3 linked regions of the Homo sapiens genome follow. The protein of the gene in region 3 interacts with the protein of the main gene of each other region in a biochemical or structural test. Each region holds a gene or a part of one and is shown on either strand. Other genes may lie near its edges.

Region 1 (4,648 bases), on a different chromosome or scaffold from region 3:
GAAAACAAAACATAATTTTGTTTAGGAGATGACTATTTCCTTGTACTAAATTTCTAAGGTTAATTTATTACATCAATTCTTGTATCTGAGACTTGTGCAAAGTAAGAGATGATCTATGTTTTGTAAAGAATGTAGAAAAATGCGTTGTATGATAGTTTTACATTTAACGGTAAATAAAAAGCAATATACTATAATATTTTATCATAACTCAGTGAAGTAATCTCTCTAAGTAGCTATGCTAATTGAGGCTGTCAGTGTGTTTTTCTTCGTACTTAATACAGCAAAGTCCAAGGTCTGCCACCTTGAAGGTTACAGCCTTTGTTAAACTAGATTTTTTTGTGCAGAATGTCAGCTGGGGTGTAATAACTTTTACTAACTTGAGAATGAGAGAAGATGGGAGGAGTGGAGCTCAAATTTAACACAAATGCCAAAGTATAATTCATCTATGTTTTCTTCCTCTAGTACTTTGGAAGTGTTGCTGAAATCATCAGGAATCATCAACATAGTCCTTTGGTTCTTATTGACAGTCAGAATAACACAAAAGATTCCACCAGACTGAAGTATGCAGTTAAAGTTTCATAAAGGGGGAAAAAAAAGATCAATACCATTGCTTCAGACACTTTCCCAAAGTTTCTCCTTTTGAGAAAAAGTCCCAAAACTTCATATTTTGGATTATGAATCATCCAGTAATAAAATGGAAGATGGAGTCAGCTATTGAAGTGGTCATCCATTTCTTTTTAAGAAGCTCATGTGGACTTGTTCTATTGCCTGACCTGATGAACTGTTAATATCTGGTGAGGTTGAGTTATCATGCTACTAATATTTTCCAAATAAATATTTTTATTTTTAAAAATAAGTGTAAAGTATATTATCAAAATAAGAAAATAATGCTCTTGCATAAAACAAAGTGGCTGGAAATTTAAACCTCCACAATGATCATTGGTACACTAATGTAGCTGGGCTCTCCACTGCCAATGCTTGACAATTAAGTCTTGGTTAAAATTTTAATTTGTAGAAAATAAGGTATTAAAGGTAATGTATGATATCTGTAAGTATAGGCAAGAAGGATGTAATGGTTCCTTTTTGTGAGCACTCTCAACCATGGGATATATATATATATGGATATGAACTTTCTATAAGTTCTTGTCTAGGATTATGCTGTTAGTTTTGCTTACTAAAGATAATTATACCCTCTTTGATCTACATGTCTATCAAATAGAACCTAAACTTGATATGAGGTTTGTATTAGTCCATTATCACGCTGCTAATAAAGACATACTCAAGACTGGGTGATTTACATAAAAAAAAAAAAAAAAAAAGAGGTTTAATGGACTCACAGTTCCACATGGTTGGGGAGGCCTCACAATCATGGCAGAAGGCAAAGAAGAAGCAAAGGCATGTTTTACATGGTGGCAGGCAAGAGAGCATGTGCAGGGGAACTGCCCTTTATAAAACCATCAGATCTCATGAGACTTACTCACTATCACAACAACATGGGAAAACCTGCCCGCGTGATTCAGTTACCTCCCACCAGGTCCCTCCCATGGCACGTGGGGATTATGGGAGCTACAATTCAAGATGAGATTTGGGTGAGGACACAGCCAAACCATATCAAGTTTCAAAGTGGAATGACAGCAAAGCTAGACTAAAAGCCAGTTCCTAGAGAAATATCCCACAAAACAAGAGCAGAAAAGCAGACATTGGTGAACACCAAGGAATAAAAGAGATACCATCGTGGAGAATCAGGTCCAAGGTCTTAGATCATCCCAGAAATGTATCATACTTTGTCATATATTTCTACTGTGTACTTCAGACAGCAGTGAAGTGATAAAGCAGCTAATTAAGTCTAATAATTAAATGGGGAACACACTTGGCCACTGCATAAGATAGCAATCTATGAAAGTATGTTGAAAGGCCAGAAGGTAATAATTTCAGGGTAACTCATGACTCACTTCTAAAGATAATTGTATATTTAAATGTCATAAACTTTCATAATTGCCACCTATGTTACAGATTGAACTGTGGTCCCCTCAAAAAGATATGTTGAAGTCCTAATCCATAAGGCCACATATCTCAGAATGTGACCTTATTTGGGAATGAGGTCTTTACAGATATAGTCAAGGTAAGATGAGGTCAGTAGGGTGGGCCTTAATACAATGGCTGGTGTCCTTATAAAATTAGGAAATTTGGATGCAGGCACAGAGAGAAGACTATATGAAGAGACACACAGGAACAATACTACTGGCGTGATTCCATCCTGTATGGCTGTTCTCTTGAGCAGTGGTCGTTTATCTCCGTCTGCTTTCTCTCCCACCTAAGTGTGTGCCGCCACCTGATGGAAGATTCGATGGACATGGACGTGAGCCCCCTGAGGCCCAGAACTATCTTTTCAGTTGTGAACTAAAGGCCGACAAAGATGATCACTTTAAGGTGGATAATGATGAAAATGAGCACCAGTTATCCTTAAGAACGGTCAGTTTAGGGGCTGGTGCAAAGGATGAACTGCACATTGTTGAAGCAGAGGCAATGAATTATGAAGGCAGTCCAATTAAATAACACTGGCACCTTTGAAAATGTCTGTACAGCCAACAGTTTCCCTTGGGGTCTTTGAAATAACACCACCAGTGCTTTTATGGTTGAAGTGTGGTTCAGGGCCAGTGCATATTAGTGGACAGCATTTAGTAGCTGTGGAGGAAGATGCAGAGTCAGAAGATGAAGAGGAGGAGGATGTGAAACTCTTAAGGATATCTGGAAAGTGATCTGTCCCTGGAGGTGGTAGCAAGATTCCAGAGAATAAAAGTAAAACTTGCTGCTGATGAAGATGATGATGATGATGATGATGATGATGATGATGATTTTGATGATGAGGAAACTGAAGAAAAAGCACCATTGAAGAAATCTACATACTCCAGCCAAAAATGCACAAAAGTCAAATCAGAATAGAAAACACTCAAACCCATCATCAACACCAAGATTAAAAGGACAAGAATCCTTCAAAAAACAGGAAAAAACTCGTAAAACACCAAAAGGGCCTAGTTCTGTAGAAGACATTAAATCAAAAATGCAAGCAAGTATAGAAAAAGGTGGTTCTCTTCCCAAAGTGGAAGCCAAGTTCATCAATTATGTGAAGAATTGCTTCCGGACAACTGACCAGGAGACTATTCAAGATCCTGGCAGTGGAGGAAGTCTCTTTAGAAAATAGTTTAAACAATTTGTTAACATTTTTCCATCTTATTTCATTTCTCTAACAGTCAATATCTGGCTGTCCTTTCTATAATGCAGAGTGAGAACTTTCCCTACTGTGTTTAATAAATGTTGTCCAGGTTCCATTGCCAAGAATGTGTTGTCCAAAATGCCTGTTTCATTATTAAAGATGGAACTTCACCCTTTGCTTGGTTTTAAATATGTATGGAATGTTATGATAGGACATAGTAGTAGCAGTGGTCAGAACATGGAAATGGTGGGGAGACAAAAATATACATGTGAACTAAAACTTGGCATTTTAATAAAGTAGCATGGTTTCTATTGAAAAAAAAGATTACGACATGAAGATGAGGGACTGGAGTGATGCATCTGTAGGCCTGGGAGCACCAAAGATTGCCTGCAAACCATCAGAAGCTAGGAAGAGGCAAGAACAGACTTCCCTCCGGGTTTTAGAGGGAGCATGGCCCTGGTGGCACCTTGATTTTGGACTTTGAGTGTCCAGTACTTGAAGACAATAAATTTCTGGCTTTTTAAGCCACCCAGTTTATTATGGCGGCCATAGAAACCTAATAAAATTTATATGCATTTTTTACATTCAGGTATATAGGGGTTTGGGAAATTTTGTATGGAAAGGTTTTTTTTCTCCTTTTAGGAAAACCATTGAATCATTTTGAATGTACTAGAAAGGATGACTCACAATTTAAACTGGGAAACTGGGGTAATTTTTTGGTAAAGCAAAGCATCTGTTTGTAGTATGTGGCATCAGCTCTCTAGCTTCAGTTTTCCTCAGTGTTACACGGAATTATTTTCTATTTAAGTAAATCCTCATTAATTCCCACTGCTACCACAGCAACCCTGGCTCTATAACAACCTCTTATGCCTCATTCTTCCTCTCCTCCTCCAAGTGTCCTACTCCAGCTAGGTAATAGCATAGCTGTTAAGATTATACTAATCCTCAGTTGGTTGACATACAGTACTGCGTGGTGGATTTCTTGGAGCAGAGGCTGGGAGAATTTCTGAGAGATAGGCCATTCTCTGCTAAGGGCTCTACTCCTCCCCAAAGCTGGGAGAACTACCCAATCCAACATGCCAGTCTTTTCCCTCATCTTGCAGAAGAGTCCACTGAGGGTGATCCCACCTGCTTCTCTAAAGCCCACCTCTGCAAGTGGTATTCTTGATGAGATTAGAAAAGTCTTTAAGAGGCTGGGCATGGTGGCTTACACCTATAATCACAGTAGTTTGGCAGGCCGAAGCAGGTGGATCACTTGAGGCCAGGAGTTCAAGACCAACCTGGTCAACACAGGGAAACCCCATCTCTACTAAAACTAGAAAAAATTAACTGGGCATGGTGGCACTCGCCTGTAATTTCAGCTACTACTCAGGAGGCTGAGGCATGAGAATCACTTGAACCTGGGAGGCGGAGGTTGTAGTGAGCCAAGATCAT
Region 2 (8,749 bases), on a different chromosome or scaffold from region 3:
ATGGGCTGTGCGACCAGCCCATGTGACAGGTGTCTGTGCATGCACGTGCGTGCTTGGGACTGTGTGATGGGGGCATGCCAAGGAGAATCTGGGAATAGGGAATGCTGTTACTCAGGTGGTTCTGGTCTTACCTCCCTCTCCGGCTCCAGGGCCACGGGGTTGACCATCTCTTCCACGTAGTTTGATGGGAACCACAGCTGCTTCTTCCCTCCGTAGTCCCCTCGCCACCTGTGGGAGCCACAGGGTGCTGACCTCCAGCAACCACCCCGAACTCCCATGAGGAGGGTATCCTTTGGTAGGGGTTCCCATGCCTAAGCCAGGGTGAGGCAGGCACTGCTGGTGCACACAGGAGACAAGCACATCACAAATGCATGTCTTTGGGGCCCCAGCTCCACTGGGGCCCTTGGACTCTGGGCCTACCACACCACTGGCTTACCAGCCTCCCTCTTGCTTCTCCACATTCTGGATGATGGCGCTCTTGATGAAGGTCAGCTCGTCCTCCCTCTGGGCCTTGTAGTCAAAGAGGGCTTTGACTGCACACTGCAGAGGTGAGAAGCACCAGTCAGAGCAGAAAGGCTCTCCCTGCCACTGCCAACCTGGGGCTTCATGTGCACACACACATGTGCTTGGGCTTCCCTGCCTGGGGTCAGGCCAGTGGGAGATGACACTGCCATCAACAGGCCCTAGTTATAGTTCTTGTTACTGCCCTGCAGGGAAGCTCCAGGACAGATATGATCAGAGAGGCAGGGCCTCTGCCAGTGAAATACCTCGGGACCCAGGTGGAACCTTAAGCCCCACCCTGGGCCACAGGGAGAACCTTGAATCCGCTCCCAGGAGTCAGGGCTGGCAGGCCAAGAAGGCAGGGTCTGCAGTGGCCCTGAGTGCCTCCCCGGGACCTGGAAGCATATGGGGCCTGGATGGGACCCTACCACTCATCTGTGAAGTGGAAAGAAAAACTTCCTTCCAGGTCCCCTGGCTGTGGAGGGGAGGGGGTGAGAAATAGGGCCCAGGCCTTTTTAGAGAAAAAGGCAAAACAAAAAAGAACCTGTGTAACAGGGCTCCATGAGGCCGGGGAATGAGTGGCCAGTGTGCCTCCCAGCTCCTACCCCGCTGCTGCCCAGGAAGGAAACAGGGGTCACCCACAGGAGCAGTTTAAAGGGTCACTGCTGACTTAAGGGGTAGGGGCTAGGGAGTGGGTCGGCCCTGGGAGACCTGCGGTCGCTCACCAACCACACATCTCTCACAACCTCTTGGGCCTCGGAAAACCACAACCACCACTTCTCCACAAAGACCACAGATGGCCCAGAACACAGAAATGAAGCCCCAAGCAGCTGGGGACCCTCCCCAGCTTCCTATGCCCAGAGGCCTGAGCTGTACCTTGAAAGTTGGCATAGGGTTTGCCTCTACATAGAAGCCAGGGTTGCGTCCCTCATACAGGGCCCCGTAGTCAGGCTCCTGGAAACAGGACACAATGGGATATGTTAATGCCCCAGAGCCCAGAGGTAGAAAGCAGCTACTGGTTTCTGGAGCAGCTTCCCTTTCCCCCAGTGCAGCAAACTTGCACCTGATCCACAGGGATCCTTCGACCTCAGTAGAGACGGCTTCAGAGGCCTCAGGCCCGGCCTCACTGTTCCCTTTCCTTTCTTCACATTCTTACATGTAAGGCCCAGCCCAGGATTCTAAAATCTCTCAGGTCCTAAATGCCCAAACTCCCAAGTATTTCTGAGCTATGTGCAGGTGGGCCCTTCACAGACTACCCATATTCAGTGCTTTAGTTCAGTGGCTTGTTGGTTCACTGCTGAGCCCAAAGTCAGGAAAAGCCTTCCCACTCCCCACATTCCTCCTGCCGCTCCTCTCCATCACTTGAGTCCCAGGTGCCAGTGGACAACAGGCCTCTCTCTCCCCAGCCAGCCCTGTCTACTGACGACAGCAGTCTCTCAACTGATCTTCTGGTCCTAGACCCCTTCCTTCTGTCCAGGGCCCTTATCACCAGCTGTGCTGCCATGGGTCCTGACTTTTTCCCTCACTGGTCTCACCTCCTGTGGCTCTGCCCTCCATACCATCCACCAGGCGGAGGCTCCACAACCACTCTTGGGTAGCCTCATCTCATCTGCCCTAGGACAGAGTCCAGGCCAAGCCCAGGTGGATGAGTTTCCACTGTGTGCACCTCTCCCAGTGTGAGCCCCAGAACCTCCTCACTCCACATCTTGACTCATGAGGAACCCTCTGCTTATGTGCCTGTCCCCATCCTTAAAGATGCTGCTCAGATGTCCCCTCCTGCAGACACCCTCCTGGTACCCACACTGTGGCTCCCAGCTGGAGTCAGGGGCCCTCCCACGAACTTCTACAACACACCAGGTCTTGCTGTTACACACATCCAGAGACTGGTAAGATTCTGGGTCTCTCCTGCCTCCCCTGCCATGCCCCGTCTACCACAGCCCCCTCACAGCTGTGCCAATCTTCTCCAGTGCCTCCTCGTTGATGGGATAGCGCAGCTTCATCTTGCGGTATAGCGGGTGTTTCTCATAGTAGCTGATGAGGTCAACAAGGCTGTCGAACTCCGAGTTCCCTAGCATCACTGTCTGGCCCTCTTGCTGGACACGGCAATGCTTGATCTTGCCCTCAGCCCTTCACAAGGACAAAACAGTCACACAGGGTCAGGGCAGCTCAGACCCAAGCAAGGCCCCACAACCCAGTGCCACACCCCTCACCGGAAAGAGATGGCATATGAGTTGGGTTCATTCCGCTTCCGCACCAGGAAGGCCCCATCACGAGGGACGCGCATTAGCATGTGCTCAGCCTGTGCTCTGGTCAGGCTCGCGTGGTACCACCTGAGAACAGGCAGAGTCAGGCCCGGCCAGCACCACCCATGGCCCTGCCCTGCCTTGTCCGCCCCCAGGCCCTTCCCTCACTCTTTGCTCTCGTGGGCGTTGGTCTGTGGGACAGGCTCTGAAAGTCGCATCTCAAACTCATTACAGCGCAGGGGCACCTGCTGGTAGTGCGTGATGAGGTCATAGAGGGAGTCAAAGACGAGGTTGTCTGTCAAGAAGAACTTGGGGGTCCCAGCATCTTGCCGGGAGTGGATACGGCAGTGCTGGACTTTCCCGTTCCGCCTGTGGAAGACACAGAGTGAGGGAGGCTGGGGAAAACAGGCCAGGGCCCCAAAGACCAAGTTCCACCCCAAATGAGGGTGGAACTCAAGGAGGGAGCCTCAAGGAGGGAGGCCAATCTCCTGAGGAGCTCAGGTGTGGGCAGTCACATGAACCAAAGGTGTGGGCTTCAAATGAACCGAAAAGGGAGGGGTATGGGGGGGGGGTGAGACAGAGAGTGTGTGTGTGTATGTAGGTGAAATTATGTTCCATGTAAAGCCTAATTATTGTCCTGGATCAAAGGCTCAAATGTTAACTGATTATCTCTGGGTGATGTGATGTCTGTGTACACACGCTGACTGAACATACGCATCTGCATGGGAAGTGTTACCAGAAAGAGAGCGTGTAGTCGCCCACGAAGGTCTCACTCTCTCGCACGAGGAAGGAGCCGTCAGGGGCTCCGGTCTCGATGCAGTACTCAGTAAGCAGGCGCTCAGCGATGTGACGCCCGTCACGCCCTGCCCCTAGCTTCCCATGGAACCACTTCTCATTGGAGTGCAGCTCTGTGCTGCTGCTGACCTGTCAGGGGAAGGCAACAGCAAAGATACTGTGACCCTGGCCCAGGCCTGACCTGGCCCAGCCCCCAGACCTGAGCTGGTTCCTCACCTCCTTGGGCTCCTCCTCATCCTCGTTGCCCTGGTCACTGCTGGTCTCCTCAGAGTAGTAGATCTTGCTGCTGGTCAGAACAAAGTAGTGGGGATACCATTCCTGGAACAGACCAAAGAGGGACTTGTGAGCCAGGGTCCTCACACCCACTGGCCTACCACCCCCAGCCTGGCCCAGTCCTCACGTGGTTCACAGGGTCCTCCAGGTAGAGGATGCCATTCTTGATAGAGTTGCTGATGTCGTTCTCAGAGTACATCATGGATGTAGGCACCTCCTCGTAGGCACTGCCCTCAGCCAGCTTCTTGTGCTGTAGGGGCAACCAGAACAGGGCAATGCAGACCCCAGTCCTCACCCCACCTCCTCACCCAGGTTTAGGCCCAACAGCTGAAGCCATGGCCTGGGCAAGGCACTGAGAAGTGTGGGGCTTCCGCAATAAGCCCGCCACCCCACCTTGATGAGGATCTTCCTCTTAAGCTGGTTGGGTGAGGGGAGCCCGTCGGCAGAGATCTCCACGGGCTTGGTGAGGAGTGTGTCCCCCAGCACCTTCTTGAAGTATTGGGCCATGTTTCTCTGCTGGGCAATGCTGCAGTGGTCCTCAATGGACAGGATGACTGGGTACCTGCGGGATGGGGGACAAGCACAGTGAAACAGATTCTGCAATTCTCTGGGTCTAAGTAGCCCCTCACAGTGAGCTGTTGGAAGCCAAGGGCCTGGGGGCTTCTTGTCTGTAAAAACTATCCCAGAAAAGAGGCAGGCCATAGCCACTGGTGGGGCAGAGAGGGGTTCTACAGCTGTGGCAGCAGTGGAAACCAAAGGGTGGCAACTGATGCAGTCCCGAGCTGGCCCAATTATGGAGGCTGCTCAGCAGTGCAAGAAAAATGTTTCACACCAAAGAGGCCAGGAGAGAGGAGAAGCCTCCAAAGTTAGCTGTTAGAGCCCTGGTGAGCTAAGGGAGACCAGTGACCACAGTTTAAGCAGTAAACAGAATTGAAGGAATGGGACACAGGGAACAGAGACAATCTTCTGGGCTGTGAGGGCAAAGGAGTTGGCAGGACACTGGCCTAAAGAAACCAGGGCATGTTTTCTGAAGATGAGAAGAGCATGTGTTCTACAGTCTAAAGGACCCATGAAGAAGAGAGTGGGCCCAACACGTAGGAAACAGAAAGTGTAACTTGGGAAGCAACAGCTCAAGCAGGGAGCAGGTGACGAGGAGAGGCCAAGAGGAAGGACAAAGATGAAAGGCTGAGGGAGAGGGGACAGGGCATTTGAGGAGTCTTTCTGCCCTCTGTCCCTCTAGAACGAGAGACCTGGAGCCAAGTTAACCCCTGGGTCATCCAGCCTCCGACTCACTCTGAGGCCACAAAGGCATGCTCCTTGATGGTGTGCAGGACATCTGAGAACTTGATCTTGGTGGTAAGGGTGTGCCCATGGTAAATAACTGGCATCCCATCCGGGCCGTCCCAGCAGTCCACTGGGGAGCAACATCACCATGGTCAAGCGGGCAGGCCTCCCATCTTCCCTCCCCCAGCCCTGGACCCCACGCACACTCAATGCAGCGACAGCCCATCCGCAGGCAGCGAGCATAGGCTTCCAAGGAGGACTCACTGGAGAACTGGTCCCCGGTCAGGTACCTGGATAGGCAAGGAGAGGCAGGTAGGTATGGTCAGATGGGCCCTCCTGGGGAAGAAGCTGGGTGGGCCTGAAGGAGCCACACTCACGTGTTGTGCGAGGAGGAGATCCAGTAGTGGGAAAGAGGGTTGTTCATGGTGTCCGGGCATACTGCATCCAGCTGCGAGTTCCACACACTGTTCTCTTTGGAGAACAGGAAGGTGACAAACTGTCCAGAAACATGTGGAAGGGAAGAGACAGTGAGTCCCTGCCCTGTCCAACCCAAGATGGTAGGTTGGGGGTAGGAGAGAGAGTGCTCTGTCCCAACTGGGGGTGGGCAAGGTGCACAGTAGGTAGAAACAAGGTGGCATCCCTAAGGAGCGTCTAGCTCCTGGAGCCCGGGTGGGGTCCTGGTCACCCCTACTCATTCTCTTGACAAAAAATGGGTGAAACATCGGGCTCACCTCATCCAGGAAGAAGTATGGCTCCTCGATCTCTCGTAAGGGGTCTCGGAGGAAGCTGAGCATGAACTCCTGCACCTGGAGGCGATCAACAGCCCACAGCTCCTGATGGGGTAGGGAGGGCAGGGGATGAGAGAAGCCTCCAGTCAGGGATGAGCCCAGCCCCCCACAACCTACCAGCCTGGGCCAATGTCAGCCCAGCCATACCCCCTGGTAGTCAAGAAGGAACTGCTGGAACTCAGGAAGGGACACTCGGCAAAGCTCCGGCCGCTCCCCAGCCCTGCAGGGAGAGAAGGTAAGCTAGCTAGTATGGTCAACAGACAACAAGGTGCCCCACGGAAGGCAGAACCCAACTCCCAGCCAGCACAGCTTCCCAGAATGGTCCAGCATGGTTCCCTACTCCCACTGCCTCCCACCTGGATCAAGAATCGCCCAGTGGAGAGATGAAGGGGGCCCAGGGAAAACCCCACCTCCCCACTCCAAACCAAACCTCAGAGTACTGGCTTCCAAGAAGGGGAGGTCCATCTGCAGGAAACAGAACCTGGTCAGGGCAAGACCCCTGGGAGGCCATGTGGGAAATGGGCTAGTAAGAAGGCAGGCTAGAGCAGCAGATGGGGGCAGGCCTCAAGAGGAGAAGAACTGGAGAAATGGCACCCAAAAGCCCCTAAGCAGGGCAGCAGGGCTGAGGCAGGCAGAGCTGGGGTGTGGGGTGGAAGAGCAGGGGCAGGGGTTGAGGGAGGGCAGGTGGCTCATGCACCGTCTTCTGGGCGCTGTACATGAGGCTGCGGTACAGCTGAGCAAACTGCCCGTAGGTGATGTCCCCGCTGCGCTGCTCCAGGTCCTGCATGGTATAGAGCAGGAGTGCCAGTCAGGCAGTCAGGCCCCCAGCTGAAGGGCTCTTGGCTTCCCCTGCCCCCATCTACAGACAGCCCTGGGTGGCACTTACCGTCAGCCGCTCTCGGAGGAAGCGCATGTTGGGGACCCGGTAGTTGACCTGGGACAGCATGTTCTTCAGGTCCTTGGCTGATATACTGAGAAAACAGGGACATCCCCAGTGGTCTCATCCAGCTTCTCATGACCTCTGACCTGTGGGTCGAGCCCACCTGGGGCTGGACAGGTAAACAACACTATTCTGGGAACCTGGAGGCCTGAGGGCAAGACTGGATCAGAACCCATGGGGTGAGGTTAGTCCCTTCCTTTCTTTGGACCTCAGTTCCTCATCTGAGCAAAAAAAAAAAAAAAAAAAACAAAAACAAAACAAACAAAAAAAACCTGTAATTCTGGCAAGGAAGATGTGAACAGATTCAGTAAAGTGGGTCAGGCATGGGAGGAAGAAAAACCACACTCCAGGCCTCCCCTCCTACCGGCACTGCTGAGGCCTGTGCCAAGGTGGCAGTCAGCCTATCCAAGACAGAAGGCAGGGCTCACTCACAACTTCCCTGTTGGGGGCAGCATGGCAGCAGGTCCCTACCTGCTGCCCACTGGGATGCTGGGAGTTTGGTCCTCAGAACCCACTAACCCATGAGAGGGAGGAAGGAGGAGGTGCATGCTCCACCAAATACAATGACTGGCAACTGGGCACCTCCTGGGGCTAGACAGGGCCTGGCTCCAGGAAAGAAACTGAGAGAACAAGCGCCCCTGCTCTCCAGGGGTGTCCTGCCCAGGATGTGAGGCTGGGGACACTGCTGGACCTGGCAACAGGATGGACAAGAAGGGGGAAGGGGGGGGCTTTCTCTCCTGGAAGGTGGTGTCAAGGAGGGGAGGGGAGGGTGGGACCACCTCCTCTGGGCCCCAAGAGCCTGGGAGGAGGCACCAAAATTCCCCGAGGGGGCTGAGCGCCACACTGAGTGGATCAAGCACTGCGGAGGGAGGGCTGGCTCTATATAGGCGCCCCCTCCTCTGATCCTCAGTCACCCAGGAGGTAGGTGCTATCAGGGTCCTTGTTTTCCAGTGAGGAAACAGAGGCCTTCTGGTTGCAACTGCCTGCATCACCGATCTTGCCCTCTGTGGTCTCTTTCCCATCAGCATACGAACAGCTTGTTACTTCTTCCACCAAAAACACCTGTCTTGCCCCTGCTTAGCTCTCCAGCTACTGCCCTCTTCTTTGCTCCCCTCCATAGCAAAACTCCTTGCAAGAGTCATCTTGCTCCCTCTCATTCCCTTGAGCCCCTCACCGCTAGGGTGACACCGCTCTTCTCACCATGTTAAATCCAAGGGTCAACGGTCAGATTTCACCACTGTCTTCTTCCTTGGGCTGCCAGAACTCAACACTCTGGGGGTTCTCCTCTTACCGCACTAGTTGTCCCTGACCCCTCCAATCTCTAATATGGGGGTGGTCTGGGATCAGCCACTGGACCCTGCCCTTTTCTTGGTCTGCTTGCCCCCTAGGTGATCTCACCCAGCCCTGTGGCTTTCAGTGTTATCTACATACTCCCAAGTTAAAATCTGTAGCCCCTACTGTGTATGTACCTAAACTCACTCTAACCACCTGCCTACTCAACATCTCTCCCTGGACAGCTAATAGGCATCAGAAAACTTAACATGCCTCGAACTGAACCCAAGCTTCCCTCCAAATGGGCTAGTCCCATGATCTTCTCATCTCAGTCAATGGTGACTCTGTTTTCCAGTTGCTCAAGCCAAACAGCATACTATTATCCTCAATGCCTCTCACACCCCAAAATCAATCTGTTAAGGACATTCTTTCTGGCGCTATCTTCAAAATACAACATGGCCAAAATCCAGCCACTTCCTACCATTACCATCATGATCCAAGCCCTCTCATTTTTCACCTGGAGTGTGGAAACAGCTCCTAACTGAGCTCTCCACACAGCAGGCAGAGTGATCTTGAGTAACCCAAGTCAGGTCACATCACTCCTCTCCTCAGAACCCTTCCATGGCTTCCCATTTCTTTCAGGTCAAAGGACC
Region 3 (6,844 bases):
CAGTGCCTGGCACATGGTAAAATGTCCGGCCAACATGAGTTCCCTTCCATAGGTCAGGGGGTGTCACAGAGGCCTGTGGGGAAAAACCTATTAGACTGCAATCGTGTAGGGTTGGAGGGGAGGGAGTCCTTTATTGAGTGTTGCGAGGGGCACACAGGCGAGGCCTCCCTCAGGTTCCCTGGAGTTGACCCAGGGTTGGGGAATTGCTTAAGGAGCTACAAATGGGTCTCCAGTGGGATTGATGGGGGACTTGAAGGCGGGGGACCCCTTTGGAGGAACTCCTGACTTCTGCCTATGTTCTCAGTGTACCATTTATCTGTTGATTTCTTACCAGGTGCCTTTGAGATAGAGATAAATGGACAGCTGGTGTTCTCCAAGCTGGAGAATGGGGGCTTTCCCTATGAGAAAGATGTGAGTATTTACAGCGTTGGGAGGACCTCTTGGTCACCCTACCCCAACAGTGCATCATCCTGTCATTCCACTCCTCTAGCTCATTGAGGCCATCCGAAGAGCCAGTAATGGAGAAACCCTAGAAAAGATCACCAACAGCCGTCCTCCCTGCGTCATCCTGTGACTGCACAGGACTCTGGGTTCCTGCTCTGTTCTGGGGTCCAAACCTTGGTCTCCCTTTGGTCCTGCTGGGAGCTCCCCCTGCCTCTTTCCCCTACTTAGCTCCTTAGCAAAGAGACCCTGGCCTCCACTTTGCCCTTTGGGTACAAAGAAGGAATAGAAGATTCCGTGGCCTTGGGGGCAGGAGAGAGACACTCTCCATGAACACTTCTCCAGCCACCTCATACCCCCTTCCCAGGGTAAGTGCCCACGAAAGCCCAGTCCACTCTTCGCCTCGGTAATACCTGTCTGATGCCACAGATTTTATTTATTCTCCCCTAACCCAGGGCAATGTCAGCTATTGGCAGTAAAGTGGCGCTACAAACACTAATGCTAACTAGTGTGTGTTTTTATACGTCCAGTCTGGGAATGTGGGGGGCACAGAAGTCCGGTCAGCCCAGCCTTTGCACCGCCAGGGTGGCTGTGCTGGCTGGGTGGGCTTTCTGGACAGCTACTCCTTAGGTCAGTGAGCTCCTCTGGCATAGCCAAGGCAAGGAAAATGAGTCCCACAGTAGACCCTGCCTCGTCTTTCCCCCACCCTACCCACCACTCTCCTCACTCACAAGGAGGAAATAACCCCATTCTGGTGAGTGGCCTTAGGAATTAGTTCGTTCTAAATAAGAATGATCTGGTCGTCAAAGGGCTCTCAGATCTGAATCCAGCTTCCCGATCTCCCCCAACCCTGAAGCTGGAGAACTGGATGTCTGGCTCCTCATCCAAGCTTTCTGAAGATTCCCAGCCACTCCCTCCAGGAAAAGAGGAATTGAGTGTAAGGTGAGCAGGAAGGGATGGCACAGAGCCACCCCCAGACATAGGCCGGTGCCTAGCTGTTTTCCAAAATATATTTGCAAATGGACAAAGTGGGTGTGGAGAAGGACCCCCCACACTTGCCTCCCCATACAACACCCATTCTCCCCCTGGGTCTTTATTTCATCTTTAAAAAAACAAAACAAAAAAAGTAAAAACTAAACAGAAAAGCACTCTGTACAAAGCCTGGATACTGACACCATTGCTGTTCCTTCCTCATGGGGGGCAGTACTAGGTTTCAGGGACAGTCTCTGAATGGGTCGCTTTTGTTCTTAGACACTCCCTTAGGGCCGCTTCCCCTCTCAGGCCAGCTTCCCTAAGGCTTTCAGTACCCAGGATCTGGAAGGAAAGGGCCAAGCTGGGCTGTGGCATCCACTGGACCCTAGAGTCTCATTGGGCAGGGCCTCAGAATCCACAAAGACTCCCCAGTGCTGTTCCTCTTCCAACGAGGCTGGACCCCTTCCAGCCATCTGGGAACTCAAGCAGGAAGGAAGGTTCCTTAGGACAGGTTCCTGGCATGGCAGGTTCCCCTGGAAGTGGTCGGAGGGCCCTCCCACCTCTTGATGCCAGCAGAAGTCAGGCCTTCCCTGCTCCCTGAGGACACATCAGGGCTTCTGCGGACTTGGCCTTCTGGTTCACACTGGCACGTCCAGACCCAGGTACTCTGGGTTCTCTGCCGTAGGTGTCCCTTTGAAGGTGCTGGGTGGAGCCCCCCGCTCTGGTGGGTCCTGGTCCCAGTAATAGAGGTTGTCGAAGGCTGGGCTGAAGGCAGGAGGAGGGTGGGGCTGAGGGGCAGCTCCTCCCTGGGGTGTCAAGTACTCGGGGTTCTCCACGGCACCCCCAAAGGCAAAAACGTCTTTGACGACCCCATTCTTCCCTGGGGAGAGAGTCTTGGGCCTTTCCAGAGTGGCACCAGCAGGTCGGGCAGCAGGCAGAGGGCCCTCTCGGGGCGAAGGGGGCTGGGGCCGAACATCTGGCTGGTTCACATATTCTGAAAGGTCAAGAGAAGGTGACCCATTAGGGGAAGGAACCCCGGTGTCTCTGCCACTCCCTCTGCCCCCACAGTGGACCCTGGGCTGAAGGTCCCACCTCCCCTGCCCATCAGTCTCTCTGCTTAGACTGGACTCCATACCAGGCTGGGGGCTGCAGGTCAGGGGGGCAACGTAGCCATCAGTCTCAGAGGGCAGGGGTACTGTGGGGTCCTCACTGTACCGCTGTAGAGGGCTGGGGTCATGTGTGGGGAGGCTTTGCAGCCCCTTGGCTGCCCCCATTCCCAGGTCACCATCAAATACATCGGAGCCAGCCCCTTCGGAGGGTGCCAGTGGAGACCTGGGGGCCTCCTCTTCAGAGGGCTCCAGCCCTAGTGTCAGGTCCCCACCGCCACTCTGGGGACAAGAAAGAAAGTCATGATGGGGGTCACTCACGGATCTGGGATGGGGACTCCATGGAAGGTGACAGGGTCACAGGAGAAAAACAGAGGTCACCTTTGGGGTATGACACAGTCACCGTGGAGAGAATGGGGTCACAGGGGTTGGAAGGCAGTAAGAATTTTTTGTAGGGATAATGGGGTTTCCTTGAGAGGTGACAGTTGAGGGAACATCAGAGAAAGGGACCCTAGTCCACCGGGGTTGGGGGAGGTAAGCAGACAGCCACACAGTGTGACCGAGGGCACTGACCCTGGTAGATGAGCTGCGGTGCCTGTGGTGGACCATGCCCCCAGCGCCCGGGGCAGGGTCTGGACAGAAGAAGCCCTGCTGGGGTACCAGATACTCCTCAGCATCCACCAGGTCCCCCATGTCATCGTCCTCCAGCAGTGAGCGGTAGAAGGTGCTGTCCAAGGGACTGGCTGGGCCCAAGTCCTCATTCTGTGGAGGAAGGAGAGGCAGGATGGTGGCCCCTCCCCAGCCCAGCATGCAGCCTTCCGTGAGGGGCCTGGCATACTGGACTCATCTCTCCTTCCCACCCTCTGCAGGAGGGTGCTCTTAGCCACAGGCAGGGATGGGGCACAGAGGCCCAGTACCTGGATGACCACAAAGCGCTGGGGGTCCCTGGCCATGCGGGAGAATTCAGACACCAACTCCCGGAATCTTGGCCGACATTCAGAGTCAATCATCCAACCTGGGGCAGGAGGGAGGTCAGCATGCTAGTCCCAGGCCCTGTGTGCTTGCTGCCTCTCCCCTCCCACTCCCCCTCCAGTCTGGTCTAGACAGTCCCAAGGGACAGCCCAAAGCCCTCAGGTGGTAGAGAAGTAGCACCAGACTCTGGGGTCTTCAGCCAGAACCTTTGGCATCTCTTCTAGTTTCCCTTTTAATTTTTTTTTTCTTTTTGTTTGCTTTTTTATTTTTTTGAGATGAGGTTTCGCTCTGTCACCCAGGCTGGATTTCAGTGGTGCAATCATAGCTTACTGCAACCTTAAACTAGGCTCAAGTGATCTTCCTGCCTCAGCCTCTCCTGAGTAGCTGGGACTACTGGCACACACCACCACACCCAGATAATTTTTTTATTTTTTGTAGAGATAGGATCTCACTATGTTGCCCAGGCTGGTCTTGAACTCCTGGCTTCAAGGGATCCTCCCACCTCAGCCTCCAAAAGTACTGGGATTACAGGCATGAGCCACTGTGCCCAGCTTAATTTTGTACAAGAGTGTTCCTCAAGAGTGGCTTTGGACTTTGACTGTAAAAGGGATACAAGAAGGTTTTGAGGCTCCTAACATACTAGGGCTCCTGGGTCTACATACATCCTGGTCCCCTTTCATGCCCCTTGTGGGCTCCTCCACCCAGGACCTCCCACCCTCCTCCAGGCAGCCAGCACAGCTCAGCCACGCACATTTGACCATGATCATGTAGACATCAATGGTGCAGATGGGGGGCTGGGGCAGCCGCTCCCCCTTTTCCAGCAGGTCAGGGATCTCCCGGGCTGGGATCCCATCGTAAGGTTTGGCCCCAAAAGTCATCAGCTCCCACACAGTCACACCTAAGGCAGAGACAGGGTCAGGAGTGGGAGGGCCAGAGGGAGCTTTAGTGTACTGAGCCAGAGGTTCTGCTCAGGAGTCTAGCATCATGGCAGGTAGCAGGGGGAGATGTGATGCCAGGAGACAGACCCTACCCGGTCTTTCCCTAATCCTGGGAAGTGCACAGACCCTGCAAGGTGGGGCACAGGCAGCCCCTTCCCTCCCTTCACATGCTGAGGTGGCCCCGTAATTCTCCCCATCCCAGCTCTCATCCTCCCTCCAGCCATGGCTCCTCACCCACCCCTCCCAACACCCCCCATCACACACCATAACTCCACACATCACTCTGGTGGGTGAACCGCCGGCGGAGAATGGACTCCAGCGCCATCCACTTGATGGGCACCTGGGAGGGCAGAAGAGGAAGTCCTCCAACTGTGTGTTGTGGGGAGGTGGCCACTCAGAGTTCTCCCATGGGCTAGACACCACTCCACCCAGCCTCCTCTGCTCCTTGGTCCTTCACCTAACCTTGCCCCCATCTGCATGGTACTCTGTCTCGTCAATGTCCAGCAGCCGAGCCAGCCCGAAGTCTGTAATTTTGACATGGTTGGGACTCTTGACCAGCACGTTCCGAGCGGCCAAGTCCCTGTGTACGAGCCGCACATCCTCCAGGTAGCTCATCCCCTGGAATGGGAAGCACCCATGTAGACCTTCTGGGAGGGCCTGGGCCTGGCCACATGCCCAGCAAGAGTCCCCATCCTAGCCCCTTGTGGACATAGGGGTTTGCTCCGGAGAGACCTGCAAAGAGCCCAGGTGCATACCTTGGCAATCTGCATACACCAGTTCAGCAGGTCCTGGGAGCCCAGGCGTCCGCGGTTTTCCCGGACATGGTCTAAGAGGCAGCCATAGGGCATAAGCTGTGTCACCAGCTGCACCGTGGATGTCAGGCAGATGCCCAGAAGGCGGGAGACATATGGGGAGCCCACACCAGCCATCACGTATGCTTCCTGGGGACAAGGGTACGCTGAGAGGGTATGGGAGACCACACACCCCCAAACACCACACAGCCTCCCAACCATCACAAACCACAGCCATGGCCCACAGCCTGTGAAGGCTCAAAGTACCAGCCTGGACAACATGGTGAAACCCTGTCTCTACTAAAAATACAAAGATTAGGCCGGGCACGGTGGCTCACACCTGTAATCCCAGCACTTTGGGAGGCCGAGGCGGGCGGATCATGAGGTCAGGAGTTTGACACCAACCTGGCCAACATGGTGAAATCCCATCTCTACTAAAAATACAAAAATTAGCCGGGCGTGGTGGCTCGCGCCTGTAATCCCAGCTACTCAGGAGACTGAGGGAGAAGAATCGCTTTAACCTGGGAGGCTGAGCTGAGACCGCACCATTTCACTCTAGCCTGGGTGACAGAGCGAGACTCTGTCTCAAAAAAAAAAAAAAAATTAGCGGGCGCTTGTAATCCCAGCTACTCAGGAGCCTGAGGCATGAAAATCGCTTGAGTCCAGGAGGTGGAGGTTGCAGTGAGCCGAGATAACGCCACTGCACTCCAGCCTGGGTGACAGAGCAAGACTCCGTCTCCAAAAAAATAGTCTAGGTTTGCGGGAGTCATATCTCCCCAAACCCCAATGAAGAGAGACCAGAGCCCAGACCTGCAGCCATGGGGTCCTTCCTGTCCTCCTAGCAGGAGAGGGTGGAGGGGCTTACGTCTAAGATTTCTTTGTTGGCTTTGGGGGATGTGTTTTCCCTCAACACTTTGATGGCCACTGGAATTTTCACATTCTCCCCATCAGGGATCCAGATGCCCTGGGCAGAAAGAGGAGGATATGAGTGAGAAGAGCGTGGGCTGGATCCTACCTGCCTTCCAGGAGATCATTACTTGTCCTCCAAACATCCTTCACCACCCTAGGGCTTGGCCCCGCTCCCTTCTCCGCTGTAACTGCCCTCCCCCAAACACTGCCTCCAGCTCTTGCCCCTCCCATCAGAACTGCCGACCACACCCCTCCAGGCACCGCCCCCATCCTCTGGGGCCGCCCACCCCAGGACCTGGCCCTGACCTTGTAGACTGTGCCAAAAGCGCCAGATCCAAGCACCTTCACCTTCCTCAGCTCCGTCTCTTTCAGGATCCGCATCTGCGCCTGGTTGGGCATCGCTCCGCTAGGTGTCAGCGGCTCCACCAGCTGGGGTGAGGGGGTGGTGGGTCAGTGCCGGGGGCCGGTGCAGACCCCACGCGGGCTGGGAGGACTTCACCCCGCCTCACCTCCGTTTCCTGCAGCAGTCTCCGCATCGTGTACTTCCGGATCTTCTGCTGCCGTCGCTTGATGAGGATCCCAAAGACCACCCCCAAGACCACGACCAGCAGAATGCCAACCACCGCAGAGATGATGGACGTCAGAGGGCTGGGGGCGGAAGCCAGGGTCAGGGATTGAGGGCTAGTTTGGGGTGGGAGGGACAAAGGGGGCCCAC

What was found.
Region 1: the proteins of ERBB2 (region 3) and BLNK form a complex in vitro, tested with the Homo sapiens proteins (2 studies listed by BioGRID and IntAct, with this or other methods).
Region 2: the proteins of ERBB2 (region 3) and PLCG1 form a complex in vitro, tested with the Homo sapiens proteins (2 studies listed by BioGRID and IntAct, with this or other methods).

Annotation. Positions count from the first base shown.
Region 1 is NC_000010.11:96,187,907-96,192,554, reverse strand, and holds the end of BLNK (B-cell linker protein), read left to right. Parts: intron 1-462; coding exon 463-582; 3' UTR 583-3,384; downstream 3,385-4,648. UniProt on the Homo sapiens protein: Functions as a central linker protein, downstream of the B-cell receptor (BCR), bridging the SYK kinase to a multitude of signaling pathways and regulating biological outcomes of B-cell function and development.
Region 2 is NC_000020.11:41,160,558-41,169,306, reverse strand, and holds part of PLCG1 (1-phosphatidylinositol 4,5-bisphosphate phosphodiesterase gamma-1), read right to left. Parts: intron 6,856-8,749; coding exon 6,771-6,855; intron 6,666-6,770; coding exon 6,582-6,665; intron 6,350-6,581; coding exon 6,315-6,349; intron 6,105-6,314; coding exon 6,032-6,104; intron 5,930-6,031; coding exon 5,828-5,929; intron 5,593-5,827; coding exon 5,474-5,592; intron 5,387-5,473; coding exon 5,301-5,386; intron 5,227-5,300; coding exon 5,106-5,226; intron 4,375-5,105; coding exon 4,206-4,374; intron 4,063-4,205; coding exon 3,940-4,062; intron 3,858-3,939; coding exon 3,756-3,857; intron 3,669-3,755; coding exon 3,481-3,668; intron 3,114-3,480; coding exon 2,913-3,113; intron 2,832-2,912; coding exon 2,712-2,831; intron 2,629-2,711; coding exon 2,448-2,628; intron 1,456-2,447; coding exon 1,378-1,455; intron 541-1,377; coding exon 437-540; intron 285-436; exon of another isoform or gene 229-284; coding exon 132-228; intron 1-131. UniProt on the Homo sapiens protein: Mediates the production of the second messenger molecules diacylglycerol (DAG) and inositol 1,4,5-trisphosphate (IP3). Plays an important role in the regulation of intracellular signaling cascades.
Region 3 is NC_000017.11:39,723,252-39,730,095, reverse strand, and holds the end of ERBB2 (receptor tyrosine-protein kinase erbB-2 isoform a precursor), read right to left. Parts: intron 6,778-6,844; coding exon 6,639-6,777; intron 6,559-6,638; coding exon 6,436-6,558; intron 6,185-6,435; coding exon 6,086-6,184; intron 5,371-6,085; coding exon 5,185-5,370; intron 5,048-5,184; coding exon 4,892-5,047; intron 4,770-4,891; coding exon 4,694-4,769; intron 4,390-4,693; coding exon 4,243-4,389; intron 3,602-4,242; exon of another isoform or gene 3,535-3,601; coding exon 3,437-3,534; intron 3,282-3,436; coding exon 3,093-3,281; intron 2,802-3,092; coding exon 2,549-2,801; intron 2,408-2,548; coding exon 2,052-2,407; 3' UTR 1,438-2,051; downstream 1-1,437. Other genes in the region: MIEN1 (migration and invasion enhancer 1), read left to right, coding at 335-498. UniProt on the Homo sapiens protein: Protein tyrosine kinase that is part of several cell surface receptor complexes, but that apparently needs a coreceptor for ligand binding. Essential component of a neuregulin-receptor complex, although neuregulins do not interact with it alone.